Regions from separate parts of the Homo sapiens genome. Here regions 1, 2, 3, 4 and 5 are each linked to region 6. Evidence: fine-mapped expression QTL. A gene starts in region 6. Each other region holds a variant in brackets. All regions are shown on one strand. Distances are from middle to middle. Region 1 overlaps LMO1 (LIM domain only 1). Region 2 overlaps SCUBE2 (signal peptide, CUB domain and EGF like domain containing 2). Region 3 has its middle 34 kb from the start of DENND2B. Region 4 overlaps SCUBE2 (signal peptide, CUB domain and EGF like domain containing 2). Region 5 overlaps SCUBE2 (signal peptide, CUB domain and EGF like domain containing 2). Region 6 holds the start of SCUBE2 (signal peptide, CUB domain and EGF like domain containing 2).

Evidence for each region.
Region 1: its variant is fine-mapped to the expression of SCUBE2 in uterus (GTEx, PIP 0.95).
Region 2: its variant is fine-mapped to the expression of SCUBE2 in transverse colon (GTEx, PIP 0.94).
Region 3: its variant is fine-mapped to the expression of SCUBE2 in blood mononuclear cells (TOPMed, PIP above 0.99).
Region 4: its variant is fine-mapped to the expression of SCUBE2 in lung (TOPMed, PIP 0.95).
Region 5: its variant is fine-mapped to the expression of SCUBE2 in tibial artery (GTEx, PIP 0.95).

The regions. Positions count from the first base shown.
Region 1 is chr11:8,258,630-8,263,734 of GRCh38, reverse strand. LMO1 (LIM domain only 1) reads left to right here. Exons shown (of 4, transcript NM_002315.3): 1 at 1-397. The coding sequence starts at 373. Among named protein-coding and RNA genes, the nearest start is that of LMO1, 2.7 kb to the left of the region's middle. RefSeq lists a silencer at 646-735 and enhancers at 1,432-1,971, 2,902-3,403. The variant A/C (reference allele first, on the strand shown) is at 2,578.
Region 2 is chr11:9,018,693-9,023,797 of GRCh38, reverse strand. It overlaps SCUBE2 (signal peptide, CUB domain and EGF like domain containing 2), which reads left to right. Exons shown (of 23, transcript NM_001367977.2): 22 at 1,843-1,922; 23 at 2,601-4,322. The coding sequence ends at 2,753. All of the region lies in intron 1 of NRIP3-DT (NRIP3 divergent transcript), which reads right to left. Among named protein-coding and RNA genes, the nearest start is that of NRIP3-DT, 17 kb to the right of the region's middle. The variant G/AG (reference allele first, on the strand shown) is at 2,368.
Region 3 is chr11:8,841,699-8,846,803 of GRCh38, reverse strand. It overlaps a transcript of DENND2B not described here and the pseudogene RNA5SP330. Among named protein-coding and RNA genes, the nearest start is that of DENND2B, 34 kb to the right of the region's middle. The variant C/T (reference allele first, on the strand shown) is at 2,496.
Region 4 is chr11:9,039,268-9,044,372 of GRCh38, reverse strand. The region is part of intron 16 of SCUBE2 (signal peptide, CUB domain and EGF like domain containing 2); the gene reads left to right. All of the region lies in intron 1 of NRIP3-DT (NRIP3 divergent transcript), which reads right to left. Among named protein-coding and RNA genes, the nearest start is that of NRIP3-DT, 38 kb to the right of the region's middle. RefSeq lists a silencer at 5,078-5,105. The variant C/T (reference allele first, on the strand shown) is at 3,115.
Region 5 is chr11:9,050,931-9,056,035 of GRCh38, reverse strand. SCUBE2 (signal peptide, CUB domain and EGF like domain containing 2) reads left to right here. Exons shown (of 23, transcript NM_001367977.2): 10 at 127-243; 11 at 2,277-2,399; 12 at 2,821-2,937; 13 at 3,204-3,290. The region is part of intron 1 of NRIP3-DT (NRIP3 divergent transcript); the gene reads right to left. Among named protein-coding and RNA genes, the nearest start is that of MIR5691, 37 kb to the left of the region's middle. The variant C/A (reference allele first, on the strand shown) is at 2,563.
Region 6 is chr11:9,089,222-9,094,326 of GRCh38, reverse strand. It overlaps SCUBE2 (signal peptide, CUB domain and EGF like domain containing 2), which reads left to right and starts at 2,728. Exons shown (of 23, transcript NM_001367977.2): 1 at 2,728-2,931; 2 at 4,498-4,620. The coding sequence starts at 2,799. MIR5691 (microRNA 5691) reads left to right here and starts at 3,948; the gene lies at 3,948-4,015.

The sequences.
Region 1 (5,105 bases), 830 kb after region 6:
ATGAGCTATCAAATGCAATTACATTAAGACAGATTATACTGGGCAAATTGAGCCATTTAGAAGGTGAGAATCAAAGAAACGGCTCTGATCCTCTTTTCCCCCTTCTCTCTCCCTCTCCCTCTCTCTCTAAATTGCAGTTCGTAGTTCCTTCCAATTCTGAGGCACAAAAGTAGGTGAGACTGCTTTTGTATCTGCGAAGTGCTTCACTCCTGAATGTAATTCTAGCTGAGTGCAATCTAGGTTAAGAGCCGGACAAGCGGGTAATTAGAGCCCGCTAGCTGCCCGAAGACCGGCCGCCCCTCCAAAGCGCGCCCCGAGTCGGCGCCCTTCTCCCGGCCGAGCCTAGCTGCGGCTGGACACGGAGCGCCCGAGATGATGGTGCTGGACAAGGAGGACGGTAGGTGGCGGGCCGGGGTCTCGACGCCCCTCACCCCCTCGCCCCCTGCCGCGGCGCGCAGGCACACACACGCGGGGACACGGGCGCACACCTGCTGGGCTGTGCGGGGATTGCGGGGCGGGCGGCGCGCTGGGGGCCGGGGCTGGGGCGGGGGGAAGTACCGGGGGACAGCCGGGCGGAACTTGCGGGGGGAGGAGGTCGAGCCCCGGGCTGCACGCGCCCGGGGCCGCACGCCCCCCGGGTCCCGGCCGCGAGCCGAGGAGCTGTGCACTGGCCGTGTGCTGCGCCGCGGGGCCGCGCGGAGGCTGGGGCTCCCTTGCGATCTCCGCGCCGCGGAGGTTCGCTCTGAGCATTTCGTGTCTGAGGCTGCTGCTCTCACCGCAGCCATCACCCTCGCGCCAGCCGCCGCGTAACCCGAGAGGCGCTGAGCGCCGAGCAAATCAGCGGCTTCGGGGAGAATCGGGCTCCAGAGCTCGGGGCAAGCGGGAGCGCGGGAGGACGGCGCGAGCGCCAGGGTGCCCGGCAGGCGAGGGGAAGGCGGGTTGGACCCTCCGGGGGACATCTGCATGAGCGTGACTCGGTGAGAAAGAGAGCCGCCTCTTGTGCCGGCCCGCTAGCTCCCTGTCTCTCTGAGCGCGGAGGCGGGAGTTTGGCCCAGAGGAAGAAAGTGTCCCGCCGCCGGCCGGTAGCACTTGTGCGGGAGCGGCCTGCGAGAGTGGCACGGACCTTCCGTGGTCGAGCCTCAGTGCGCCCTAGAAAACTGCAGGGCACGGGAAAGGTCGGAACAGAGGAGCCCATGGCTGCTGGAAGCCACTAGCAGGTGGTCCCATAGACCCCAAAGCCTTACTGGCAGGGAGTGCCCTGCAGTTAAGTGTCCTAGAAGGCTGGGGATCCCAGCCCCCTTGGGGGGAAAGCCAAGTGGGTGCCCTAAGATGAGTCCCCAGGGTAAGGAGAGAGGCAGTACCTTGGCTGTCCCAGGACCTCCTGCCCTGTAGGTGAGGCCTGTGTGTTGGTGTTGCAGGGGCATTTGTATGTGACTGTTGGTGCCCACGCTGCCGCCGGCGTTCTGCCATTGGTGAGGTACCGAAAGGGTAGGTTTGCTTTGAGTCAGCGGGAATCCTCTTAAAGTGACTGTAGTGGCCATCCTCTGCCCTTCCGTTCAGGAGTCTCTGCTGGGCCTGAGCCCTCTGTCCCTGGGGCAGCGTTGTTATTGATGTGGCCAGTTGGTGAAAATGCAAAGCTAAGTGACTTGCTCAGGGTCACACAGGATGTTCGCATTGCCGCTGCCAGGTGCCGATGCCCCCAGGCTGCTACCGCCTTCTGAGACATCCAGCAGGGAGGGGGAATTTGAAGTATCTGGCCTGGGGGTGGCATCTAGGAGGACCTGTGGCTCTCAGTATGTGTGTAGGAAGAGAGAGGATGGGGGGAACCTCAGTGCTTCTGGGCTAGCTGGGGTGGGACATCATCTTCAATATGTCTTCTCTATTCACGGACCCCTTCCCTGGAGCCCCATGTAGGCCATCGGAGAACTTCATATAGAATGAAAAGGAGAAGAAGGGGTCTGGGGTTGGGCCAGACAGGGAGGGAAGAGACCTTGATTTGGTGCCTTTCATCACGAACTCCCCATGTTCACCTTCCCTCTTGGTAAAAATGAAGGGCTTGGAGAAGCCAGGGGAGAGGGTACTTCCTTGGTACCTGGAGATACTGTCACTATGGGGAGCATGCAAGGTTCATCTTTAGCAGAGGTTATTTGGCATACTTGGCTCCCCAGGCCCAAGCCAGGAATCCAGAAGACTCGGGCTCTGTACGTGAGAGGCCTCAGGCCAGGGAGATTGGTCTCATGCCAACAAGATGACACCCCCTACCTGCACCCAGGATCTTGCTCTGCCCAGGCACCACATGATGCCTCTGGCTCTGAGATAATACAAAGGGTTTCAGATGAGCCTTGAGTGAGAATGGATTTCTGGAGGTCATTTTAGCCAGCTCCCTGCCTCCAAATTGCAGTGTACCTCAAGCACCCTGGGCAGATGTTTCTTCTGGTTTCTGCTAGATCTGTGGAAGAGAGCTCCAGATGCCCCTCCATCCCCAGCCTGTCCAGCCTAAACAATATGGTGCCCACTACCATGGAGCTGCTGGGCTCTGGGGTCCATTACAGCACAAGCACATCCACTGGTGTCCTA[A/C]GCAGCCACCTATTCTTGTCCTACCCAGCCCATAGCTGTCTTTCAAAAGCGACGTTTCTGCTCATGCATCTGCACTCCACTCCCTATTAAGAGGAGTCTGGCCTCCCATAGTTCCAGGAAACCTTGAAGATGGCATCTTCAATTGGGGGAGGGAGAAAGGTTCTGGATGCACTCATCTGCTCCTCCAAACCAACCACCTATCTTCTTCTTGAACGCTTCTGCCCTCTCAGCAGGTGGCTATCTGAACTGGGTGGCAGCATTCCCCCACCCCCCGGCTCCCCCAAAGGGTGCGTTCCCTGCATACGGCACCTTTTGTCTGGCTGCAGCAGGGACTCAGGGCTGCTATTAACCACCCCCAACGCCTTTTCTCCACCTGACAGCATCTTGTCTGGAGAGGCTGGGGCTCCTCTGGTTGAAGTCGGGTCTGCCAGCTGCCGAGGACCAAAGCTCCCGCTCTGCTGGGCTGCAGGGCTTTCATGTTGCACTTCTGAAAGATAATAAAATATCAATCGTTTTGCCGTAGCAACGGGTTTAAGAGACTTTCTGAAGTATTGAATCGTCAGAAAAAAAAAATTTTTTTTTGCTTTTAAGCACAGTGCATTATTAATAAAGTAATCCATTAGGTCGAGCAGTGAAGGGTCACCACAGAGACGGAAAGATCTGTTTTGCAAACGGTTAAACTTCGGGTTTTAAGATTAATTGCTTTCATTTGGATGCTTGCTCTTGGCCTAGCCATCTCCACTTTACTGGAACTCAGGGTCCGGGCTTTCTACATGCTGCTGGGTCTGCCTGTCAGCGAAATGGAACTGAGCTCCAACTTTCCCGGAGAAACAGCCCTTCTTCCCCTGGCACCTGCGGCTTGGGCTGGCACCAGGTGGTGAGCTTTTTGGGAGGGTTAAAATCCCAAGGGAGCAAGGAGAGCTACAGCTCTGAATGCTACCCAAGTCAAATGAGCCCCTGGGCTGTTCGAGAAGAGGCCTTTGAGTAGGAGCAGACAGCAGAGAGTCTGAGAGGGCCCAAGAACAGTGAGAGCTTTGGTCTGTGGGGGACTGGGCAGGAGAGGAGGCTGGGGCATCCAGCTGGGGATGCTGGGATGCTCTCAGGTGCACACAGGAGAAGGGCAGGGCTGGGTATAAACGGCCTTTGCAAAGGCCCAGCAGGAAGGTGGGGGTGACCACAGGAAGCAGCAGGCGGGTTGTGGAACTAAACACCAGACATGATTCCTAGGGCATTTTTAATAAGTAAAAATGCCCAAGAGAGTGAAGCTGGACTGAGGAGGACCAGACAGCGGAGTCTTCAATTGTTAATGACTGCTAGGAGCACAAATTCCACAGCCGACTCAGTTAATCCACCAGAGCCGGCGCATGGCTATGCTTGGGTACCAACCAGCCCTTGCTGGGCCACCAGTAGGATTTCCTAGGATAGACACTCATGTTCTAGACCACAGAGAATCCCAGGGGCCTCTCCTGGCAGAGTGTGCTCATGACCGTCCCAACCCTGGAGAGGGAGGCAGGCCCTGATGCTGTTCCATGCCAGAGACCCCAGCCCATCAGCAGGAAGGCGGAGCCAAGTGGACACTGCTGCCTGCTGAGGCCTGGTAAAGGCCTTGTGAGTCTGGCAGGGTGGGGACCAAATTGTGCACTTGCCCAGTGCCTAGAAGCAGGGGAGCGGGAGGGTTACCATCTGCATCTACCATGACCAGCCCCAGCGGCAGCCCTCCTTTCTGCTGGGAATGAGGCATCACATCCTGAGCTGCACATACAGCCGCTTCCCCTTCCTGCCCAAACTTAGCCAGGCAGAGTGTCTGTAAAGATGGGTAACCCGCCCCCCAACCCCACACACACACCCGAGCCTTGGGTGAAGAAGCAGGTGCTTCTCTCTGTTCCCTGCTCTTCCATTCATTTGCTCACACAGAGCAGCACTAAGGGGGGACAGGGAAACAACATAAATTGGTCTGTCGTCCGGAATCCATGTCTCGCTAATGTACCCAGATTAACTCAACTGTAAATTGTCTCCTTGGATGGCGGTGTCTTGCTAAAAGTTTCCCATATGATTCATGATTTGGATTGCTTTTAACGGCTATTGGCTAAGCAAGCCAGTGACTGTACAAGGTGATGCAATTGGCATTAGCGAGGGGAGGCACGGGAGCGTGTAATGCAGTCAATACTGCATTAACTACTGATGCCCAATTACAGGGAGCAGGAGAGAGCCTTTCAGGAGCATTAGGACTGGGGGAAGCTGAGATCACTGGCCGCTGCTCGCCTAAAAGCTTCACCCTTTGGATGCCGGGGCTCAGTGCTGGCATGACCACTCACTTGGCCTCTGTGGCTGTGGGAACTGCCTTTTTCTCTTGCTGTCTGTTTCTGAACATGTCCTCAAAGATGCCTTTAGCACATGAAAATGTATGTTTCCCTAGAGCTGGGACCCGCTTCTCATCCCTCCCGAGTAATTGATTCCTTACCCCCACCCTGTGTCACCCTGTGTCTCAGAGTCAGACCAGGCAGCTGCCCCATAAGCTTCCATTTAAG
Region 2 (5,105 bases), 71 kb after region 6:
TCACTCCATAAAGTAGACTTGATTATTTCCTGATTTTATAGATGAGGCCATTCAGGCTTAGAGATTTAAGGAACTGACCTAAGGTCCCAGCATGGCAAGGTTGCAAAGCAAGGTTTGAACCAGGACTGTGGGACTCCAGAGCCTGGATTCTTACCTGTAACTTTCCTGCGTTTCTAATGAGTTGGAGCAAGTAAGGAAACACAGTAGTTCTTAAAAGCAGAAGAAATATTTTTTTTAAACGATAGCAGTCGGGAAGCATTTGGTGGAGTGGCAAACAGCTGTCTAGTTTTCTATTACACCAGAACGCAGCACAGCAACCGACATTCTTAATGGTAAGTCCCATCAACAAAAAGAGGAGAGATACTGCCGCAGAGGAATTCAAGATGAAAAGAAAATGTATTCTCATATTTTATATTCACTAAAATAAAAGAAAGACACCACACTAATGGAGTACCAATGCTATTGTAAACATATCGAATTAGTAATTGTGACTATTATACCATTACTTTCCATTTGCCATCCCTTAACTGAGAGAAACTTTTCAAGAGTTCCTCTCACACAATTTCAATGATGTTCTCATAATGTGTTTGGCTTTGTCGCACATGATATGCATACAAAGAGGCATTTTTTCTGTGTCTGGAATTTGGAAAAGATTGTGCTTTGCATATGCTTAATTTGAATGATGCCTATAGGAAGTAAGCTAGACTTCAAAGGGGGAAGATTGGCATTTGGAGAAGTACAGCATGCACTGCATTTAATGTGTATATCAGGACAAAAAATATTAATGAGAGAACACACACAGTTTTCTTCCTCCCCGACCAGCCAAATTCTCCACCCTCCAGCCCCATTCAAATAAAGGAGAGAAGAGTCTTTCTTGGTGGATAAGAAGCTTGATTGTTTTACATAATACAAGAATAGAGAAAAAAGCGGGAGGTGGGGAGGTGAGAGGGAAAGGAGAGCCTGATGAGCTCAACAGGAAGTGAGTATAGACAGAGAAGAGAAGACCAAGGACTAAGCCCTGGGACCCTCCTTTGGTAATAGGTCAGAGAGAAGAAGAAAAGCAAAGAAGCCTCAGAGAAGTAACCGGTAAGGTAGGAGGAAAACCAAAGAGCATGGTGTCCTGGAAGCTCAGTGAAGAACTGGATCAAGGAGGAGGAGTGACCAGCCAGGTCAAAAGCTACTGATGCATCAAGGAGGATGAAGACCAAGAACTGGCCGTTGGGATTTAACAACATGAAGGTCATTGCTGGTCTCACCAAGCAGTTTTGGAGGAGTGATGGGGGCCAAAGCTGATTGGACTGGGTTTAAGAGAGAAAGAAAGGAAAAGAATTAGAGACAGTGGGTGCTGACAATTTTTTTAAGGATTTTTGCTGCAAAAGGGAGCAGGTAAGTGAGATGGAAGCTGGAGGGAGAAATGAGGTCAAGGGAGGGATTTTTAAAGTCAGAGACATACAGCATTTTTGCATGCTGGTGGGAGAGACGAATAGAGAGAAAAATGTATCATGTAGGAAAGAAAGAGCAGAATTACTAGAACAATGCTTTTGATTTGGGGAGAGAAGATGGACCTGGCATGCTAAGTGGAGGGATGAGCCTGGACTGGATGCACAGAGGCTCGTCTGAGGGAAGAGGGGACGGGGAAGATGGGTGCAGATGCTGGTAGGTGAAGAGAGGTGGTGGTGGGAGTCTGTGGAAGTTTTCTTCTGACTGTCTTCTCAGTAAGCAGAATGGTAAGTGATAGCAGCCACAGAAGGGGCATTTCTCAGAACCTTATCAAAAAGTGAAAGAGTGAGTTTGGAAGCAACTAAATCATAAGAATGCAAAACATGTTCTTTATTCCAACAGAGGACTACCAGGAACTCATTGAAGACATAGTTCGAGATGGCAGGCTCTATGCATCTGAGAACCATCAGGAAATACTTAAGGTGAGTGCCTGGCTCAGGTGGACATGGCAGTTATCCACAGAGCTTCCCGAGTACTGTTGGAGAAGGCTTCTCCTCCTGCTCCTTGTTGCCACCTTTCAGACACGGAGCCTGTCCTGGGCCAAGGTCAGTTTTATACCTTCACCAGACTTAATTTTTAAAAAAATCAGGTTGCTGTCTTTAGTGTTGTCAAGTGAAGTTGTATTTTTCAATTTGGAAACTTGTGGAGGGGCAGGGAGAAATTTGCTTATAAATCCAAACCAACAGCAAATAATGTTTTTCTATTAATTCCAAATAGTTGAGGATCCTTGGCTCTTTATGTATACTTCAAGCCTAAAATTCACCAAAGTTTAAATACTTATAAATAATTAGCAATAAACACTTGTGGTATCACTAATCCTACAAATACTCCCAAATCCCAGTGTTGCATTCATCTGGTTGGGAAAAA[G/AG]AAAACAGGATTTTACATATTAAAGTTTTATTTATAAAAGTAATTCATACTTCTTAAAACTAATTAGGAAAAATAAAAACTGGAAAGAAGATAAAAATCAGAGGAAACAATTTTTGCAAGTGTTTTTCAGCTAAGCAAGCTACGGCCTAATACTGGGTCATTATAGTTCCATGGGCAAAATGTCAGCATATTTAAATATTTTGGCCCAGTAACAAAAATTCTGTTCTTTTTAGGATAAGAAACTTATCAAGGCTCTGTTTGATGTCCTGGCCCATCCCCAGAACTATTTCAAGTACACAGCCCAGGAGTCCCGAGAGATGTTTCCAAGATCGTTCATCCGATTGCTACGTTCCAAAGTGTCCAGGTTTTTGAGACCTTACAAATGACTCAGCCCACGTGCCACTCAATACAAATGTTCTGCTATAGGGTTGGTGGGACAGAGCTGTCTTCCTTCTGCATGTCAGCACAGTCGGGTATTGCTGCCTCCCGTATCAGTGACTCATTAGAGTTCAATTTTTATAGATAATACAGATATTTTGGTAAATTGAACTTGGTTTTTCTTTCCCAGCATCGTGGATGTAGACTGAGAATGGCTTTGAGTGGCATCAGCTTCTCACTGCTGTGGGCGGATGTCTTGGATAGATCACGGGCTGGCTGAGCTGGACTTTGGTCAGCCTAGGTGAGACTCACCTGTCCTTCTGGGGTCTTACTCCTCCTCAAGGAGTCTGTAGTGGAAAGGAGGCCACAGAATAAGCTGCTTATTCTGAAACTTCAGCTTCCTCTAGCCCGGCCCTCTCTAAGGGAGCCCTCTGCACTCGTGTGCAGGCTCTGACCAGGCAGAACAGGCAAGAGGGGAGGGAAGGAGACCCCTGCAGGCTCCCTCCACCCACCTTGAGACCTGGGAGGACTCAGTTTCTCCACAGCCTTCTCCAGCCTGTGTGATACAAGTTTGATCCCAGGAACTTGAGTTCTAAGCAGTGCTCGTGAAAAAAAAAAGCAGAAAGAATTAGAAATAAATAAAAACTAAGCACTTCTGGAGACATAATAATGTACATTTATTGCCAGCCTTCCTCGTTGCAAGCTTCCACCCTGCAGCAAATGCACTATGCTGACTCTCGCACCTTCAGCTGTGCCCTCTGACACTCTGCTGGCCATTGCCTGAGGGACTGGGGAGTTCAGGTGAAATGTAATTTCCTCAGTGGATGAGAATCATCAATTGTCATGAAAAGGCGATTTCACCAACCCTGAGTCGGTATTGCCAAGGGTTCTACTCCCCAAGTGGGCTTCCCATCACAAGGGATCTGAGGTCCAGGTGGGTGTGGTGAGGCCCAGCCTGTCATGTATGCCTTCCTTCCCCAGTCTCAAATGTGAGAGACGGACTCTGCTCCGTGGACATGAGCAGCCCCTTGAAGGGTGGTCTCATTCTCTAACAGTAACAGCACTGCCAGAAACACCCCCTGAATGCCACACGATCATCTCACTTTGGGTCAGGCCAGCAGGGCCTCACGATCATTTCTTGAACTTGAATTTTCAGTGTTATTGAATCTTTAAACATTTAAATCCCCAAGCAAAAATCTCATTACAGTGAATAAAAAGGAATCCAATCAAACAAGCCACCACTTCCCTAATGGATGGACTACCTACAACTATAGTGTTTTGTTATTTCAATAACAATTCTATGCACAGCCAATTCTCCATACCAAAGTACTAAAAAAATGTTTAACAAGCATTTTTGAAGAAAACAAAGAGAACTTCATTATGGTTAAACTTGCTTTTCATCTCAGTGTTGCTTTTTTTAACCTGTTAATAACATTGATTCTTAAAAAGTCCTAATCAAACTTCTTTATTTGGATGGGCCCTAAATATTCATTTTCAGATTTCTCTTCAAAAGTTTGAACATCATCATTAAAAAAAAAATAGCATTAAAACAAGCACTTGGACTTTGTTATACTGGAGCTTGGCCTATATTTCTGAGTCTAACCATAAGATGAAAATTCGAATGTCACATAAACCCGAGTTAGTGACCGCACTGATGTGAAGGTGAGATGAGCTGAGCTGCACCATTCTGTCCAGGCATGTTAGCAACTTTGTGCTCATGACTGTGTGATCCTGTCTTGCTGATTTCACAAGAAGGCTAGGGATGGGAATACTCTGGGGGTTGGAAGGAGGCTGCATAAACCCGGTCACTATGGAGGAGCATCCTCCACGGGGCAGCCCCATGCACCAGAGCTGTGTTGCTGGTACACGCACAAACCACTGACGCACAGGAGGTATAAAGAGGAGCTTCCTCTCTATTCCCTCAACTACCTTAAGAGATGCTGTGATCCTGTTGGGGGCTGGCTATCTGGAGATACTATTTCTACCTGCTACATCAATATTTATCAAACTTCTGCCTGGTACTCTAGGCCCTGGGGATGCGGCGATAAGACAGACAAGGTCCCTGCCCTCATGAAGCTTACATTTTAGAGGGAAGAGACAGACAAAGAACAGATAAATCAACATGAAAAGTAGCAGCTAGTGGTAAGAGCTATGTTGAAAATTAAAATAGGTTACTGTAACAGATGATTGTGTGGCTACTTTAGGATTGGGGATTATAGATGGCCTCTATGCGGAAATTACATTTCAATTGAAAACTAAATGGCAAGAAGAAACCAGTCTTGGGAAAATTAGGGGGAAGAGCTTTCCAGAGAGAGGAAAACCAAGTGCAAAGGCTGTCAGGCAGGAGCAACCATTTGTGT
Region 3 (5,105 bases), 250 kb after region 6:
TAGAAATATTGCAGGCCGCCTCTGGTATAAACAGAGAATGATGAGGGTTTAGAGGTAGAAGAACTGACTATAAGCAGAAGTGTTTGAGGAGGCTGCATGGAGAACAAGGGGCATCATCTTGGCCCTTGGCAGGTTGGCAGGATTTGACTTGGTGAAGAGAACGAGAAAGGGGACTTTAACTGGGAGGACTACTCTGGGGCACAGAGGAGGGAAGCTGTTTTATGAAACCAGGTTCATTTGTTCCCATCTGTAGGTTCTGCCCTGTCCGCAAGCAGCCGCGTCTTGGCTCACTCCTCTTCTCCCCTCCTCCCCATTGTGATGACCATGAGCCTTCTCTTGGAGTGTCTGCCCAGTGGGCCCTTCAGCCTGGGCGCTGCTTTGGTTCGGATGATACTGTCCTCCACTTGTCTTCTTCCAAGGATAGATAGCGCCCTGACCTCTAGGGCCAGCAGCCTGTTGGGGGATCTTCCTTCCAATGTCACCAGCCTTACCAGCTTCTTGAGTATTTATTCCTTCATACCACACTCAGCCTTCTTCTGGCTCCTTGCTACTTGTTCTCTTAGCATAGACACTGTCCCCTCTCCCTTTCCCCAGACATAGGCTTCCAGGTTGCAATTCCATGAGTGTTCATAACAAGCCTCAGCAGTACACTTTAGGTCTTACTGTCCTTATGTCCTCTGGCACGTCCCTGTCTGTGTTGCTCTGTGGACCATGGTTTCCCATCTAGAAACCATTACTTGCAGTGGGGAATGATGCACATGAGGACCTTCGAAGGGCTTGTAGGAGCTGAGGCTGTGGGAATAAAGTGTGGGCCCTGATTCTGAAGGGACTTGATTCAGTCCTGAAGAGAAACCGTGTATTTTTGGTTTCTAGACACTCTGTAATTTATTTAATCAGACCTTTATTGAGCACATTTAGGCTGTCTTCAGTCTCTTTCTGTTAAAATATAACAGTAATTATCCACGAATAAACATAATTTAATGTTAATTTTGATAATGCCACTGTTTTGGTGGGAGAGGCAGATAAGCTAGTAGTCTTCAGACAGGGTATATTTTCTAGATCCTTGACTTTCTATGTCCCCTTTCCAAAGGCTGATCTGTCTGAGAATTCAGTTGCACTCAAGGTGTTTCCTTTCTCAATCACTCTTCTCCCACTTTACAAAAGGAAGACATAGTCATTATTAATCTGGAGTCTTGCTGTTTGTGTGCCTGATGTGTGAAAGCCTCCAGATTAACAAGCAAAGGAACAATTAGGACTATTATTAGGAAAGTGAATGACTGTGAGTAGCAAATCCTTTTCTAAGTCAGATGGTTTCCAATTCTTGCTTTCAACAAAATTGAAGGCATTGTCAGTTGGTAGATAATTAAAAATAATTTTTGATTATAGGTCATGACATGATTTTGACTTGTGATTCTAAAGATACTGATATTGCTATAGCAAAATTTATTTTACTTCTCCCATTCAAGTACTAACGGGGCCTGACCCTGCTTAGCTTTTGAGATCAGACGAGATGGCACATTCAGGGTAGTATGGCTGTAGACTGTCACTTCTGTTTAGTTATTTATGTGAACAAGGTTTCTTGGTGCTTACCACTATAAAAATGAAAAATTAATGCATTTTGAATAAAATTTTACTTTTTATGTTTAATAATAGTACCAATTTCTAAACCAATTATGTTTTGATCATTTGCATATTCAAACAATAAAGATAATGAAAACCCAATCCAGAAGAAGAATTTTTTTTTTAACATTTACAAGTTATAGCCTGGATGTGGTGGCTCACACCTGTAATCTGAACACTTTGGAAAGCCGAGGCAGGAGGATCACTTGAGGCCAGTAATTCGAAACCAGCCTGGGCAACAAAGCAAGACTCTGTTCCTACAAAAATAAAAAATAGAAAGAATTAGCTGAGCAATGTGGTGGGCATCTGTAGTTCTAGCTGCTTGGGAGGCTGAAGCAGGAGGATTGCTTGAGCTCAGGAGTTTGAGGCTGCAGTGAGCTATGATTATGCCACTGCACTCCAGCTTGGGTGATACAGCAAGACCCTGTCTCTAAAAAAAAATAAAATAAATAGAATAAAAAATTGAGGTTATAATCATAGCAGAATTTAAAAATTTATGCATTTATATGTATATATGTATAATACTAATATATATATTGCAGAGAAGTATAGGTTGATCAGTAAAAGATTTTGAAGCATAAATATTAGGATAAAATTCTGAAAACGAAATAAAAGGAAGTAAGAGTTAACAAAAAGGCATAGTATAAAATGTATGTTCTTTTAAATAGATGATCCACTATGGCATTTAGAGTCCATTGGATCATTTAGATTCATTTAAGAGAGTAATGTTGTATTTAATTTAAAAATGTAAATATTTATTTATTTTTAATAAAACATTTTTGTCGAGACAGAGTTCTGCTCTGTCACCCAGGCTGGAATACAGTGGTGCAATCATGGCTCACTGCAGCCTCGATCTCCCGGGCTCAAGCCATCCT[C/T]CCACCTAGCCTCCCAAGTAGCTGGGACTGTAGGCATGCACCACCACACTTGGCTAACTTTTCGATTTTTTTGTGGAGCTGAGGTTTCACTATGTTGCCTAGGCTGGTCTTGAACTCCTGAGCTCAAGCCATTCTCCCACCTCAGCCTCCTCAAGTGCTGGGATTACAGGCATGCACCACTGTGCCAGGCCTGTAAATATTTATAAAATGCCAATATTTAGAATATGGCAGAAAGTACGTCTTTACTACTGGTTGTGATGCAAAAATTTAAATATTAAATGTAAGGAGGGTAATATAACATTCTTTTAGGGCACATAAGATAAACAGACATTTACAATGGAGTATGATACAGATGTTTGACCAGAGGAAAGCAAAGAATGTTGAGGAGAAGATGCAAGGGAAGCCCATGGCCAGAGAAAGCAACCAAAGGAGGTGCCGTGGGAGCGGCATCTTGAGGGACTGTTGGAGTTGGCTTAGCAAACAGAGGAGGGAAGCCATTCTGGGAAGAGGGAGTGGTGTGTGCAAAGGGTCTGGAGGTAGAGAATATCAGGATCAACCTTGGGGGAAAGCACAGGGGTGGCATGAGCAGGATGGTGATTTACGGCAGCCAGACAGCGTATTATTTGTGACAGGATTTGTGTATTCCGTATGAGAGGAGGGCTTGGAAAGGAGAGGCGGTGGTGGGGCTGGAGATCTGTGGAGGTAGCTGTTGCCAAGGGCCAGGCATGAGCAAGTGAGGCCAAGAATGACCCCTGAAGGGGTGCTTCCTTCCCAGTGACTGTTTTCCATCTTAGTAATCTTCTGGACATTTTTACAAATGCAGAGATTCTTATTTACATTCTGCTAGAGGAAGAAATTGAGGCCCACTGAGAGTCTGTTCCTCTTGCAGGTTTTGTACTTAGTAGCAATGGGCTGATTGGGCTTAGTGCTGCAGCCTAAGGTTCCACATTGGCCACATGCTCAATTAGGGCCTTTAGCTTGTTATTAAGACGAGTGACTCCGGCCGGGCACGGTGGCTCGCGCCTGTAATCCCTGCACTTTGGGAGGCCGAGGTGGGCGAATCACCTGAGGTCAGGAGTTCGAGACCAACATGGTGAAACCCCGTCTCTACAAAAAATACAAAAATTAGCCAGGCGTGGTGGCACTTGCCTGTAATCCCAGCCCCTCAGGAGGCTGAGGCAGGAGAATTGCTTGAACCCGGGAGGCGGATGTTGCAGTGAGCCGAGATCGCGCCACTGCACTCCAGCCTGGGTGACAGAGTGAGACTGCATTTCAAAAAAAAAAGAGAGAAAAGAAGAGCAACTCTAATTTTGGAGCCAAAATTTGAGATCCTTAGGCCAGTACAGGATTTTTGTCCTGATTTTTGAATTTGCTTACATGAGAAGCCTTTACAGAGTCCTAAACATTAAATCAAACTGAATGTATGCATTTACGAAATCACCCTTACTGTAAAGAATTTAACTGTATAAACTCTTTGGTCTCAGGAAAGGTAGCACGTGTGACACTTTTCTGGTACAGGGAATTACAGGGAATTCTTTGTCTTTCATGATGTCTCCATCATGAAATAAGTGAAATAAGACTTTAAATAAGTGAAAGACTTGAAATAAGTGCAGTGAAATAAGACTGTGAGCAGTCCCAAAAAATATTTATGACAATTTTTTTCCCATTTGGAACATTTGTTTAGCACAGTGATAGAGACCTGATGTGGTGTTTGCGCAGGGCAGATTGAATGCACTCCAAAAGGAAACCATAAAGGGTCGAGTCGATACCACACAGAAACACGAGGTGGTGGGATGAGTGGTTTTTCCACATTTTAATATTTTCCAGGATGACACTGAAAGCCTTACCCTTAGAGAACCCTGAGCCACCTAATAATTCATAACTCCAGACTCTTGAGAGGGAGAAATGGAGGTTTATACCATTAAATAGATGTTCTGGGCCTTTCCTAAGAGAGGCTGGAAAGAAATTGAGGGCAGTCATCGGAATGTGACCAGCACAGCAAGGTAAGGGACACTGCACGACTTTGATTCCTTGTGGAACAATGTCTTCTTAATATCAGTATTTCCAGCTCCCTGTTTTTAAAAAAGTCTCTAAAAAGCCTATCTTTTTTGGGAGGACAGGAGAGAAACCTGTCAAGGAAGTAATGAGTCAGCACCGGGGACCTACTATGTGCCGTTCACAACTTGATACTTTCGTGAACGGATTGTCTCAGAGAGGAGGAAATCATGACTCAGAGAAATTATGTAAATCACTGAAGATCCAGGATTTGAACTTTGGTTCATTTGATTGCAGATTTCTTTCTACTACTTTGTGATGCCGCCTTGTGCTGAAATCGTGGAGAATGGGGGATACTCTGGATTGAACTGGGGAACTCATGGTATCCAGCTAACTGGCCTGAAAACCCAAGTACCCTTGATCTGGAGGTGTTTGGGGAGAGGAAGAATGATGGTTAGAATAGAGGAATCGAGGAGAGAGACATCAGGAGTTGCTCAGACTGTTTCCGTTTCATGGAAAGGGAATTTTGTGCCATGTCATGTAGTCCATGGTGGTGGTTCGGAAGAAGTGGGTCCTGAATTCATCTGCTACCAGTTACCCAATGAAGGAAAATGG
Region 4 (5,105 bases), 50 kb after region 6:
TCTAAGGCGGGAGGATCATCTGAGTCCAGGAGTTCGAGGCTGCAGTGAGCTATGATTGTGTCACTGCACTGCAGCCTGGGTGGCAGACCAAGAGCCTATCTTAACAAAATAAAAAACAAATATCAATACAATTTGAATAGTGCTATGTGTTGTTTTTAACTGTAGTTAGATCAAGAACATCTCTCTAACATGATAGCGGAGCAACCTCATTTCTTTTACAGCTTCCCAGGCTGTATTTGTTTGAAGACACCAGTATTGATTAGCCCTACCCCTACTGGTGAACATAGAAGTTATTGCTAATTTTTATATGGCAAATAGTGCTCAATGAATATCATTCTTTGTACACATGGCCAATATTTCTGAAGGATAGACTTGCAAAAGTACAATGGCCGACTCAAAGAACTTGCATATTTAAAACTTTAATAGATACTGCCAAATTACTTTCCCAAAAGATCATGCCTATGCATGTCGCTTCCAACGTTGGAAGCATCCTACATCTTTGCTAACATGGATTATTTATCATTGATCCTTTTCATTTTTGCAAATCTGGTAAGCAAAAAAAAAAAAAAATAGTCATTTTAACTTGGTTTTCTTTATTAGTAAGACTAAGCATGCTGTCTTATGCCTGTGGTCATTTGGATTCCTTCTTCTGAAAACATCTATATTCTTTGCCTATTTTTGCATTGAACTGTTTGTCCTTTGTATAGCATTAAAAAATAAATTTTAAAGTCCCAATTTACACCAGAGAAAATAATCACTTCTGACCAATTGTATATTTTCTTTCTTATCATTATTTTATATAGTAAAGTTTCATTAATTTGGCATTTGGGGACTTTGGGGACAGCCTGCTCTCCAAGTGACCTTTGTACCATCTGTGATCAATTTTAACAAGATGGCAAAAAAAAAAAATGATTATAGGGTCCAAGGAACAAATTTCTTAAGCTCTGTAGTACTTCATAAAGTTCTTCATGTCTAAAGAAAATTAACTATATGACATGGATGTCTAGCTATTGTACTTTCATAATACCAGCTAAAAGATAAATTATTTAAGAAATACACTGGATAATATATATGTGTGTGTATGCATGTGTGTGTATATATGTATGTATGTATGTATGTATTATATATACTGTATTTGGTTGTTTTGAAAACTTGCTGAGATTTTTAGAAGAAACAATCCAGACAACTGGCAAACTGGGAAGTATTTTAGTGCCTGGGTTCTTGAGAGACTAGGAACATTTAATTCCTTTTGTAACAGCTTACTGCTGTTCCTCTGCAGCAACCTTGGATATGTTGCTAAGGAGCCTCAACTTTATCTCTAGGTGACATGCTGCCATTGGAGGATTTACTCGGGAAGTGTCCAGGTCATATGTGTATTCTAGAAAGATCTCTCTGACTTTACTGGAGGGAGCAGAATTAGAGGCAGAAAGACCAATCTGGGGGCTTTTGAATGTGTTGCCTATGAGATACTGAGAACATGCAGGTCCTAGATAGAGAAACAGCAATGGGTTAGAGAAATATTTAAGAGGGAAAATGAGCAGCATTTGGGGATGACATGGATTGGGGACTGAGAAGGGGAAAGAGGTGGGCTGAGCTCAGAGGATTCTGATGTGGCCTGTGATCCTGGCACTTGCTTCCCATACATCCCTCATCTCACCATGCCCTGTTTCATATGCAGGAGGCACTGAGAAAACGCCAGGGGGTTGGTTGAATGATGAAATGAATGTGATCACTGGGGAAGAAATAATCAGAAGAGATTTATAGGAGAAGCAGGAAAAAAATAGGCTCTTGAGAGAGCATGAGAAAGGATGAAAAAGATACATAAAAGGAGGCTAAAGCCTGAATATTGAGTCAGAGAAACTGAGAGGAGTGCAGGAAGGCAAGGCAAGGAGGTTTTTGAGCCAGGGAGTGAAGCAATCAGAAAAAGAGTTTAGAAAGGTGCATCTGATGGTAGAATGGAAAGAGTGGAGGCAGGGAGGGACAGAAAGCCAGGGGAATCTTGGAAGGTTACTGCGGCAATCCAAATAAGAGACGGTGAGGATCTAAGGGACATTCATGCCATGGGGACGAAGAATAGGGGATAGAGAGAAGGGACACAGCTGTAGGATGCTGCCGCTGAGTGACAGGGCAGTGAGGAGAGAAGCCAGGGAGAGCTGTGATTTGGAGCCTTGGTGCCTGGGAAAATAGAGATGCTTCTGTAAGAGGAGTAAAGCCAGAGGCCAGGGAGAGAAGTGCTCCTTGGGCAACAAGATTTCTAGGCAGAGGTGTCCATGGGTGTCTGGGAGTCTAGCGAAACAACTTCTTCTCTTCATGTCCAGCCTAACTTGCCTAATCCCGAGTCTGTCCACACAGGCTCAGACCTGCCTCCTGTTAAAATGGATGGGCAGCCCATGCCTCTAAGGCCCCCCTCTATCTTGCACTCAAGCTGGAGCCTGTTCTCTCTCAGCTTCTTAAGAATGTTGCCCATGCTGTCCCCATCAACCCCTCCCATCTCAGAATTCTTCTCCTCTGCTAGATCATTTCCAACATCACACAAACCCATCTCCTGTCTTAAAAACCAAACAAACCCTCCATTGACTTCATGCATCTCTATAGCTACTGCCTCATTTCTGTGTCCCCCATTCTGTGTAGAACGAAGCTCTTTGAAGGAGCCGTAGTCATACTGTCTTTGCCTCCTTACCTCCCATTTCTCTTCAGTCTGATTTTCATGCCTAACCTCTCCACAGAAACATTTTCCAAGATTCCTAACCACCTCTGTGATGCCGAATCCAGTTGCCTTTCCTCACTCCTCATGAGGCATCCTCTCTGCTGATCACTCCCTCTCCTGGAAACACTTTCTTCCTGTGGGTTTCAGACACAACACACTTCTGCTTCTCCATACCTCACTGGCTGCTCCCTTTTCATTTTCAATGCTGGTTCCGGTTCCTCCCCTACTTTCTGATTATCCTAGGGTTGAATCCTTCGTCCCTTCCTCTGTCTTCACACTCTCCTTGGTGACCTTACCCAGTGCCATAGCTTTAAATACCACCACATGCTGGCGATTCTGAAACTGCCCTCTCCAGCTCCTTTGTCCCAGAGATGCTGAACATTTAAGAATGCACACACACACATTCT[C/T]TCTCCCTCTAAGTAAAATATATATGAATGTTTACTTATTTATAAACTATATACTTACACTATTGGCTAGTACACTATGTTCATCACAAAAGACAGAACAAGATAAAGATTAAACAAATTTAAAAATAACTGGCTAGCATCTTAAGGTAGAATCTTTACAATTGGGCGAAGTTCATTATTGATAGTGGTGGTTGCAAATCCATTTGTCCTATAGTCTTTTTGACTATTGCTAGTGCTTTAGGTGAACTCTTGACAGACCAGATTAAATCGTAACTGTTTCTGTCTCATGATGTAGTTTGACAAAGAGGTAATACACTAGTGCCTCCTTATAGGCAGTTTTGCTTTCTGTGGTTTCAGTTACCTGGGTCAACCATGGTCCAAGAATATCAAATGGAAAATTCCAGAAATAAACAATTTGTAAGTTTTAAATTGCCCACTCTTCAGAGTGGTGTGATGAAATCTCGTGTTGTCCTGCTCCATCCTGCCTGGGATATGAATCCTCCCTTTATGCTGCGTACCCACGGTGTATACCCTCCCCATCCTGCCTGGAATATGAATCCTCCCTTTCTCCTGCGTACCCACACTGTGTACCCTCCCCATCCTGCCTGGGATATGAATCCTCCCTTTCTCCTGCGTACCCACGGTGTATACCCTCCCCATCCTGCCTGGGATATGAATCCTCCCTTTCTCCTACGTACCCATGCTGTGTACCCTCCCCATCCTGCCTGGGATATGAATCCTCCCTTTCTCCTGCGTACCCACGCTGTGTACCCTCCCCATCCTGCCTGGGATATGAATCCTCCCTTTCTCCTGTGTACCCACGGTGTATACCCTCCCCCATGTTAGTCACATAGTAGTCATCTCAGTTATCAGATTGACAGATCACAAGAAGGGTGAGTACGGTACTATAAGATACTTTGAGAGAGAGACCACATTCACATAACTTTTTATTATAATATGTTGTGATAATTGTTTTATTTTATTATTATTGTTAATCTCTTGCTGTGCCTAATTTATAAATGAAACTTTATCATGAATAAGCACGCATAGGAAAACCCCTAGTGTATATAGGGTGTGGTACTCTCCGAGGTTCCAGGCACCCACTGGGGGTCTTGGATGGGAAACCTCCGCTCCACTGTGGACACGGGTGGCTGCTGTGCTAGGAGCAGAAGATGCACCCACGGGCCCTCTCCTGTGGTGCGGACGCGCGTGGCTGCTGTGCTAGGAGCAGAAGATGCGCCCACGGACACTCCTGTGGTGCGCATGGGCTCGCGTCACGTTTACGCCCTTCAGTCGGGTGTTCTTTCCGGGAATCCATCAAAGCTGCTTTCTATTTTGTGATGGTTAGTTTAGTTAAAAACACGATCATATAGGTCAGGACATCTCATTACCCAGGCATAGCTAAGCTGTAACTATTCTCTATGTATTGAGAGGCGAGAGTCAGTCAGTGCCCTGCGCCCGAGTTGTGGGTGCCAGTGCTTCTCTTTTCTTGGCGACCCTGGCTCCTCACATGTGTCTTGTGCCTCACAGAGATGGAGACTGGCTGGGAGGCTGCTCTTACACCATATTCTAAACCAGAGGAGCTTCGTTTGTTTCTTATTTTAGGTGAAAATTCGTAGGCATGGGTGTAGAAACGTGCTCCCACCCGGTGGATCATCTTGTCAACCCCCGAGGTGTAGTATTCCGCCTCAGAGACCAACAGTAGAACCCGTGCCTTCCTAGTGTCCGCACTTGGATGGCCAACTGGCATCTCAAACTCAGTGTTTCCAAACAAAGCTTCTTATCCTCTCAAGCTTCAAATCAAATCAAACCAGCATCTCAGTAAGGGGCACCTCGCCTCACCCAGTTGCTCAAGTGGAAAGCCTGAGTCATCTTGACCTCTCCCTTTCTGTTGCGTTCCTCATCCAGTCCGTGTGCAAATCCTGTCAGCTCTGCCTTCAGGTAATTTCCTTTATCTGACCAGTTTTCTCCTCCTCCGTTATTATTACTGC
Region 5 (5,105 bases), 38 kb after region 6:
GATAATGTTTTTTACTCTGTGTGTATTGTTTTTGGTGTTGGTCAGCAACTGGTATTTATCATAAACCTATTCTTCACTCATCCCTCAGAGTGGGTTTCAGCTCCCCTCTCCCTTTGACCATTACAGATGTGGATGAGTGCTCTTTGGATAGGACCTGTGACCACAGCTGCATCAACCACCCTGGCACATTTGCTTGTGCTTGCAACCGAGGGTACACCCTGTATGGCTTCACCCACTGTGGAGGTGAGCAGACTGCCCCTGTCAAGTTGGGAGGGGAATGAGGCTGGGCCTGGAGGGGAGCAGGGCCTACCCCTGAGGTTTGCTTTCCTACATTGGGGTATGAAAGGTACATTGCAGTCCCTGAGCAATAGCGGTGAGTCCATCAACTTGAGAGCAGGATCTGCTAAAGGAAATCTCCCCACATGTATCCCTTTAACACACCGAGTGTGAAATGGAGCAGAGAGAAGAACTGAGCTCTTCCAGCTGTGAATTCTCTATCGACTTGATTGACTTGCGGCTGTATTCAGAGAGTGGAAGGGTATCTCAGGAGCTGATAACCTATCTATTGGAACATCTCAGCAGATAGTAAAGTCACAGTCCTCAGAGAGGCTTGGGGGGCACCCACCAATTCCACAGCCCTGCTATGCATAGGAACTGGCTGCAAAGCCTTGGTTTGAGTCCCACAACTAGGTCTTTGAGCTGGAAGCAGAACTATGAAGTTTCTCTCTCCACTCTGTGCCCATTTTGCAAAATGTTCTCATGTCTCATAACCTCATGGTCAAGCAGGCTATGCCATAAACTGGATTTGTTACCAACTAACTCCCACTCCACTCCCCCAGCCATCAGATTCACCCAGCAATCTTTGAGAATACAGGTTCAGATTCCAATTCAGAATGTCTAGGACTTCCAAGGTCATCTTCCTGAGGATCTATAGGATTTGGGAACCACTGGCTTAAATACTTCCTGACCAGTCCTGAGTCTTGTGCTTTAGAAGATTGGATATGCTGGGCGTGGTGGCTTACGGCTCTAATCCCAGAACTTTGGGAGGCCAAGGCGGGCGGATCACCTGAGGTCGGGAGTTCGAGACCAGCCTAACCAACATGGAGAAACCCTGTCTCTACTAAAAATACAAGATTAGCCGGGCGTGGTGGCGCATGCCTGTAATCCCAGCTACTTGGGAGCTGAGGCAGGAAAATTGCTTGAACCCGGGAGGTGGAGGTTGCAGTGAGCCGAGGTTGTGCCATTGCACTCCAGCCTGGGCAATAAGAGCGAAACTCCACCTGAAAAAAAAAAAAAAAAAAAAAAAAAAATATATATATATATATATATATATACACTAGTGCTTTGCTACTGACAGTTATCTCCCTTCTCCCTTTCAACACATCCTTGGCATGGCCAAAGACATACTACTCTTCCCAGTCCATCAGGAAACCTCGAGGAAATGTACCCTGAGTATGGATGTATGTCTGGGTTTAGGTGGAGCTACCTTTTGATCTGGACTCAGTCTCAGGTTGATGGGAATTAGTGTAGTCACTTCCCTTTCTCTGTGCCTCAACTGTGTAAATGGTTAAGCAGGGAGTCCCAGTTCTGTCTGCCTCCCTTGCTAGGCAGCTCAGAAGGATGGTAGAGTTTTAAAATAGAAGTCTGTGCAGTGTCTGAGTTTGGACATCTGAAAGTAGAGTGCGGATCCTTCTGAGTGTTGCTAATGGAGGAATGGATTGGTCAAGAATGGAGCTTGAGTCTGGGTGTGGTGGCTCACACCTGTAATCCCAGCACTTTGGGAGGCCAAGGCAGGTGGATCACCTGAGGCCAGGAGTTCCAGACCAGCCTGGCCAACATGGTGAAACCCCATCTCTACTAAAAATGCAAAAATTAGCCAGGCGTGTTGGCACATGCCCGTAATCCCAGCTACTTGGGAGGCTGAGGCAGGAGAATTGCTTGAAGCTGGGAGACGGAGGTTGCAGTGAGCTGAGATGGTGCCACTGCACTCCAGCCTGAGTGACAAGAGCAAAATTCCATCTCAAAAAAAAAAAAAAAAAAAAAAAGAGTGGAGCTTGAGAAGGCCCTATTGAGCCTCCTGCCAGGAAATTTGCTGGGTGGGGAGTGGGGTGTGCAGTCAGCTGGTGCCGAGCGCTCATGCTAAAGGCATTCAGTGTCTTCCTTTGGTTAGTGAGTTTCAACCTTGTGACTCCCCTGCTGCTCCTTCCTCAAGGGAGGGACCATGTCAGCCCATTCAGTGACAGGCTGCTATGACAGGAGAGTATTTTGTTCCACAGACACCAATGAGTGCAGCATCAACAACGGAGGCTGTCAGCAGGTCTGTGTGAACACAGTGGGCAGCTATGAATGCCAGTGCCACCCTGGGTACAAGCTCCACTGGAATAAAAAAGACTGTGTGGGTAAGGGGAACCGAGGCACAGACTCAGACAGCAGGCTGGCCACTGGCCCAGAGGCAGTGCAGCTCTGCGTGCTCCCACATCCCACCTGACCGTCCCTCCACTGACTTCCCCACCAGCTGCAGCAACTGTTCTTTAAATAGTTCAAAAACAGGAGATACTTTGC[C/A]GGATCTTTGGTGTTTCCTTCTGTGCTTCTGTGTAGGTTGGAACTCACTTCTGTTTTCCTGGTTGCTTTTCTGCATGAAGAAATGGCATATCAGGGGCTCCTTTCCCTTGGTGGGAATAAGGCCTAGCATCTATGTTCTGTGCTGGGCATGAGCTCTACCTTCTTTTCTTGGGGCCTTTGGTGCATGGGACTCAACCATCCTTGTCACACTTGGAAATGTCCTTCTCTTTCTGTAAGTGTCTGTTTTGTCCTGTCTAGAAGTGAAGGGGCTCCTGCCCACAAGTGTGTCACCCCGTGTGTCCCTGCACTGCGGTAAGAGTGGTGGAGGAGACGGGTGCTTCCTCAGATGTCACTCTGGCATTCACCTCTCTTCAGGTGAGTGGGGCCCAGTTCCCGGGGCAGGTCCTCACACTGGGGCCAGGCCTCTCTGGCCTCCAGGTGTTAGATTCCCTCAAAGGGCTTCCAGGTCCTCCGCCAGATGCCCCGACCACCGTGCTTTGAGAGGTCCATGCTTCGAGACCCCATATGCTGGGCATTTTTCTAGTGGCCCATGTGGAGTGGGGTGGGGGGACAGTTTAGCTGCTACCAGGATAGCCTGTGACCTTGCTTATGCATTTGACAATTGACATTCTGTCTGTCAGGACTGCAAGGGGCCTACTCTGTCACCTGTGGCTCTTCCTCTCCTCTCAGGAACAAACAACAAAAATCAAATGACTCTGCTTTTGGGGGTAATTACCAAATCTGCGTGTTCTCTCTGGGGGCTCACTGTGTTCAAGGGGCTTCATTCACGGGGTGCTGTTCTTGGACATTGGCTTTGTTTTTTTTCTGTTAATTTCCTTGATGCTGTGAGCATGTTCCAGGGTGTTGTTGCCTGCAGTCCTGGTGCCCGGAATGTGACTCTCCCATGTAACAGATACTTACTGTGTGGCCACTGTGTGTCAGGAGGCTGTGGTCAGCCCTGGTGGGTCATCACCCTGGGCAGAGGCCCACAGAACCCCAGGACCAGCAGGCTGTACTCCAGAGCACCTCAAAGGCCCAGGGAATGTGCCTGGAGCACATGGTGTGGATAGAAATAGGCAAAGCAGGGGCAGCAGGGATTCTGTGCCGAGAAAGGGGCCCAAACCCTTTCCTGTTTGTCAAAAGATGAAGAATGAAATCCAAGGTTTTTAGGAGGCTGTGTCCTCCCGGATATAGACGCCTTTGTCATTATGTCATTGGAACACCTGAATGAGGTTCATATTACATCCTGATGTTCATATTACATATATGAGCAAAGCTAGAGACTCAAAGCAAGACAGTACAGCTTGTATGTGTTGACTGAGCAATTCAAATATGCCAGCTACCATAGTACACGAATTAACTGACTTAAGCCATACTACAACCCTCTGAGGAAATTTTACTATTATTCTCATTAACCAGATGAAGAAACTGAGGCTCAGAGAGGTGAAATAACTTACTCAAAGTGGTTTAGATAAGAAATAGGGGAGCTGGGATTTGAACCCAGGCAGTCTGGGTCCAGAGTCTCAAGCACTATCCTTCACTGCCCCTTTCAATGCACGTTTGGACTCAGCCAGGGCATACATCATGGTCTGTTTCGCCAAATCCCTCAGTGACAGTTCCTTGGTGATTTGGGCCACCCCAAGGTGGGGCAAGCAAATAGCTAATGGCTATGCAGTTATTACTACGTACCAGGCAAGGAGCTAAACATTTTCCTTTTTTTAAATGCATTATCTCATTTTATCCTTACAACAGCCTGGTAATATAGGTACTATAATTATGCCTGTTTTACAGATGAGGACACTGAAGCTTAGGGAGATTAAGTAACTTGCTCAAGTTCTCACCACAACTTAAAAGAGCTGTAGGGCATTGACTCCAGATCCTACCGGATGGTTAAGACTGACTGACCCTGGGAGGAGAACAGAATTTTGCACATCAGGCTCTCACAGTGGGACCCTCACTCCCTCTCAGACCTCAGAGCCTAGCCATGTTTAGTGAGTGCCATCTGTGTCTGGAACAACAGCTCCCTCAGCCCTGTCCTCCCACGACGGGCTTGTTTAGGAGAATCTGCCCTTCACCGTTTCGCCAAACGGGCTTATCCAGATTTGAACTGGGGGATTCTGGCCTTTTTTTCTCAGGAAGGCACAAAAATGACTTCATGTTCTATTTCACCGTGGAGGCTATTTTTGACCCTCAGTTTTAGATAGATAGATAGGTAGATAGATAGATAGATAGATAGGTAGGTAGGTAGATAGATAGATAGATAGATAGATAGATAGATAGATAGATAGATAATTTTTTGTTTTTTTTGAAATGGAGTCTCATTCACTCTGTTGCCTAGGCTAGAGTGCAGTGGTGCAATCTCAGCTCACTGCAACCTCTGCCTCCTGGGTTCAAGCAATTCTCCTGCCTCAGCCTCCCGAGTAGCTGGGATTACAGGCATGTGCCACCATGCCCGGCTAATTTTTGTATTTTTAGTAGAGATGGGGTTTCACCATGTTCGCCAGGCTGGCCTCTGTTTTATTTGAACACTGGATTTGCCTCTC
Region 6 (5,105 bases):
TCAAGGTGGTATCTAGTAGGCAACTGGATACATGGGATTGAACCAAGGGGATGAATCCAGGCTGGAGATTGACATTATGGAATCAAGGGAATGAGTGAACCATCCAGAGAGAGGGTATAGAAAGAGGACTCCTAGAAGATGGTGGAGAAGGCATTTCCTGAGAGGTAGGAGGAAAACCAGGAGTTTGCCACGATGACAACCAAGGGTAAGGAGAGTTTCCACCAGGGAGAAGTAGTCCACATGTCAGAGGCTGCTGGGGGCGGGGGGGGAGTCAAGAAAGGTGGGCACTGAATGGTGTCCCATGAGTGCAGAGTGGCACCTGCTTATGTGTAGTTCAGGGGCACGCATGGCCGGCCACTACCAGGCTTTCTTCAGCCTCCTCAAAGGCCCACACCAGTGTGACTGGGCTGGCTGGACTGCCTCTTCGCACCCCTGAGGCCTGGTTCATGGCCTCTCAGCCTGTGGAGAGGAGACAGGGAGAGGAAGAGGGAGCTTTAGCCTCAGTCCAGGGACGGTGTCTGAGGCCTTTCTGAGAAGTTTGTGGGGACCTCAGCTGCAGAATAGAGGGCAGCCTGCAGCCAGAGTAGAGCCAACCAAGTTCCTCCTGACACCAAAAACACTGACATTTGGACACAGTTTTCCCCTGGAGCTTCCCCCTGTGGAAATTCCCGGTTGTAAGCCATATTGACTTTAATCTCAAGTGTCAAAAAGGTTGCCCAGGAGTCTGGGAGCCAACAGCTGAAAGCACGTTTGTAAGGATGTCAGCGCAAACAAAATAGGATACAGAACATTTTTTGAGATCTGTGCCAGTGGTGGACTTTTCTGGGAAACATGACAAAAGCTGACAGTCTTAGGCAAAAAGGCGCTGATTCTTGTCATTATTAATTTATGTCCTTACTGAAAGATCAAGTTAGGGAAAGGTAAAGGGGAAGAATAGCACATGTGTGATTTCTTTGCCAGGCACAAGGGCGCTGCAGGAGGCTCCCCCTAGAGTTTAATGGGCAGCTTTATGTATTTATATGCTTTAACTGGAGCTAAAGAGGTCTGTGCCACACAATGGGCAGTTTCTAGTTGGATTTTAAAAGAAATAACTTTGATCATTTCAAAAGCAATGAAGCCTGATGCAGTGGAGAGAAAAGAAGGCAGTAATTTATGGCTACCATTAAGGACACAAAGACAAAGGTGGAGAGAACGTTTCACTAACTGAAGATTTACAAATGTGTAAAAACCACCCTTATGACCAGAAATAGCTGAGTGTCTCTCTCAGCACCAAACAAAAGGGAGTGGGAGGGAGGCGCAGACAGAAAGAGGGACGCAACCTGCCTGCCTTCACTGAAAGGGTCAAAAGAAAAACAACTACAGAAAAGTTATTTTCTCAGATAGCTCCATCAAGCAGCTGCACTAGCCACAGCCCAAAGAGGCAGGCCCCCGTGGGCATGTTCGGGGGCTGGGGTGGCAGACAGTGGGTACTGAGGGTGCAGAGGCTGGGAGCTCTGGGCTGTGGATAGGCCCCAAGAAGACATAAGAGTTTTTGTGCATGAGCTAGGTGGGGATTTTTTGGTGACATCTATTTTTTTTCTGATCTCCAAAGGAATGGTGTGTGTGTGTGTGCGCGCGTGCGTGTGCCTGCATATATACATATGTGTATGTATATAATCGCAGGAGAAAATTGAATAAATACGGAGAAGCTCAGTGAAGAACATTACTATCCCTAAGTGTGATGTTTGGTTGCGTCCGGAAATTGTTACTATATTTGTTCCTGGAGTGATGGTGGGTGTATTGGGCTCCAGCCATCCGTGTCAAGTGTGATATGGGAAGACCCTGTGTACCTGTTCCCTTGCAAGGACTGTCTTTCATGGAAGGCTAGGTGCTAGGCCCTGCCTGTGTTTGAAGCTAGCCAGACCTGATGTTTATGAGTTCAGGTGATCGTAAATGCCACCTGTACTCCGGCAAAGTCGGGGCTGCTGTCTGTTGTCTCTGGTGGCTCACCTTTGACCTCTAGCCCCCTTCCCCTTAGGCTGCCCTGAGATATACATAAGTAGCTTGCAGGGATTCTAGGCCCAGTGTGCCCCACAGTGGGACAAGTGGACCAGTGCCCTCAGGGCTGTGGGATGGAGGATCCCAGAGGGCCTGGGGTGGGCAGTGTGGAGAAGGGTGCAGAGGGTGTGCTGGGGTGGGCAGAGAAGCCAGGGTCACCTTCTCCATTCAAACAGCTGTTTTCCCGAATTGGAAGTCACCCCCAATTCCTTCCACTCCCACCTCCCACCTCCCACGTGGAAAGCCCCAAGATGGCTTTGGGGTTTGGGGACTATACGGAACACTTTCTGGGCGCCCTGACCCCGAATATTTCAATCTAGAAGGGCTGTTTGTCCTCACATGAGGGCCTGGGTCGAGTTGTAACACACTGGAACAGGCGCGGCACCGAGGGCTCCGAGCGTTGGAGCGGAGCGGGGATGCGGGGGGCAGCGGGCTGGGTGCCAGGGCTGCGCGGGGCGCGAGGCACGGTGCTGCCGCCCCGCCAGGCTGACAGCCGCGCTCGGGCCACCGCGGCCGCGCCCCCTCCACCCGAGGCCGGGGAGGGGACGGGAGGAGGCCGGGCGGGGCGGCACTGCTCCCGCCTGCGCTTCCCGCCCCGGCCCGGGAGGGACCGTGTGAAAATGAGGCCGGGGCTCGGGGGGCGGGCGGGGCCGGGCCGGGGGTGGCAGCGGCAGCGGGCAGGGCGTCCGCGCACACCTCCCCGCGCCGCCGCCGCCACCGCCCGCACTCCGCCGCCTCTGCCCGCAACCGCTGAGCCATCCATGGGGGTCGCGGGCCGCAACCGTCCCGGGGCGGCCTGGGCGGTGCTGCTGCTGCTGCTGCTGCTGCCGCCACTGCTGCTGCTGGCGGGGGCCGTCCCGCCGGGTCGGGGCCGTGCCGCGGGGCCGCAGGAGGGTGAGTGTCCGGCCGCGGGGGCGCACCTGGCACAGCAGGCAGGGCCAGGAAGAGTGTTTAGGTCCCCGGCGGAGTCCAGAGCCGGGCGCGCGGGGCTCGGGGCTGGCGGCTGCAGCTCCGCGGGGGCCTCTGCTCCCCCCGGGACCTCACCCGCCGGCCGGGCCAAGGCGCCACGACCGCTGGGGCCCTGAGTCCTTCGGCCCGGCCTCGGACCCGGAGCTGCTGACGGTTCCCGCCCCGGTCCGGATGCCTCCAGAGCGCCTGCTAGTCAGACCGTCGCCGGCGAGCAGGCAGGAGGGTGCGGACCCTGGCCTTGGGGTCCCGCGCCTCAGCGTAGGCGGGGAAACTGAGGGCCGGGCCGGGCACATCCGCGAGGCGGTGGCAGCTTTGCCGTTTCTTTCTTTGGGGGCCGGCAAGTTCTGCTGATGGCTTCGGGGTGGGCTCCAGAGACTTTTCTGTCAGCGGAACAGCGCCTGTTCCGATCTGGGAATTACCCTGAAGCAGCAACAAGCCTAGGTTTTCAGCAGAGAACTTTGGTTTCCAGAGAGGACTCTGGACGTGCTGTGCTTACTGGACTTGCAATACTTTCAAAATGCTTTTGTTTTTAATTAATATCCTGGAGTAGTGTCAACCCAGGAAATACTTCTGCCAAGGCGGGTTTCCAGGTTGAGAGGATGGGCAGGGGTGGGAGTGCAGGGGGCCGGCCATGGGGACACCATCCCCGCTTCGCAGCATCTGAGAGCCCTGGATGACATCTGCTCCGATCCCGGGGCAGACTTCCCATAAATACTCTAAACCAGCGGGGTGCAATCTTTTGGCTTACCTGGGCCACAGTGGAAGAAGAAGAATTGGGCCACACATAAAATATACCAACACAAACGACAGCTGATGAGCAAAAAAAAAAAATAAATAAATAAATAAAAAAAAAATCTCATAATGTTTTAAGAAAGTTTATGAATTTGCATTGGGCCGCATTCAAAACTGTCCTGGGCTGCACGTAGCCCACGGGCTGTGTTGGACAAGCTTGCTCTGAGCTCCGAGAAAGCTGACAGACAGCTGCTTGGTGTTCAGAGCTTGTCTGTCCGTTTGGTCCTTTCCTCCTTTAGCGGGCATGTAGGTACTATTGCCTACTCACATGCCAGGTACTGCGCTGGCTTGGCATAAGGGACACAGACGCAGTCTGTTGTCAAGACATTGTCTAGTGGAGAGAGAGGAAGGAAAACAGTGACAACCCTGCCTGATGTGTGCATGCAAAGCCATACATATGCGAGCACTTGGTGAGGGCAGCTACAATGGGGGTCATGGCAGGCTTCCTGGAGGAGGTGGATTTGAGCTAAGTCCTGAAGGCCAGTAGGTGATGGTGGGGGTAATTTCACGTAGAGTGTCCGGGCTGTTCCTGGAAACAGGGACCCAGAAACAGTTTGGTTTATCCCAGGGATCCCAAGCAGCTGTAGCTTGTGAGGAGTGAAGCGGGGTGGGCTGGTGAGGATGATGCCAGACAGGGCCGAGGCCAGATCACACATGGCCTGGGAGCCTGTACCAGGTGTCAGCTGTGCTCTTTTGCAGATGTAGATGAGTGTGCCCAAGGGCTAGATGACTGCCATGCCGACGCCCTGTGTCAGAACACACCCACCTCCTACAAGTGCTCCTGCAAGCCTGGCTACCAAGGGGAAGGCAGGCAGTGTGAGGGTAAGTGCCTTGGGGACCATGTGGGGGGACTGTAGGGAAGCTCCTACCTCCTTAGCTCTTGCAGTGGCCACTTATGTTGGTAAAAGTACTGCCCCTCCTCTCCCTTTCCCCCAGCCCCTGAATCACATCACCTGCTCTCTGAAATATATTTCAGATCTTGGACTGGAAACATTAGGTCTTCCCCAGAGCTGCTCACACAGTTTTATCTGGCTCTGAAATGTCCTTTTGTCTAGCTTCTGGAAAAGAAAAGAGATGTGTTAGTATCTTTGGGTCCCACTCAGTTTTGGGGCAGAAAGTAAACATCCATGCTGATCAGGAGAGCCATGCCTGCCAGAGCAGGGCTGATCCTGCACCTCCCTGGGGCGGTTTGTACCTTTGCCCTGAAGTCTGAGTGCTAGAGAGTCCTGCCCTCCCCTACCAGCTCAGGAGGCTCCATCCTGTTTATGGCTTTGGCCACAATGTTTGGCATTGTGACGTGCCAAGCT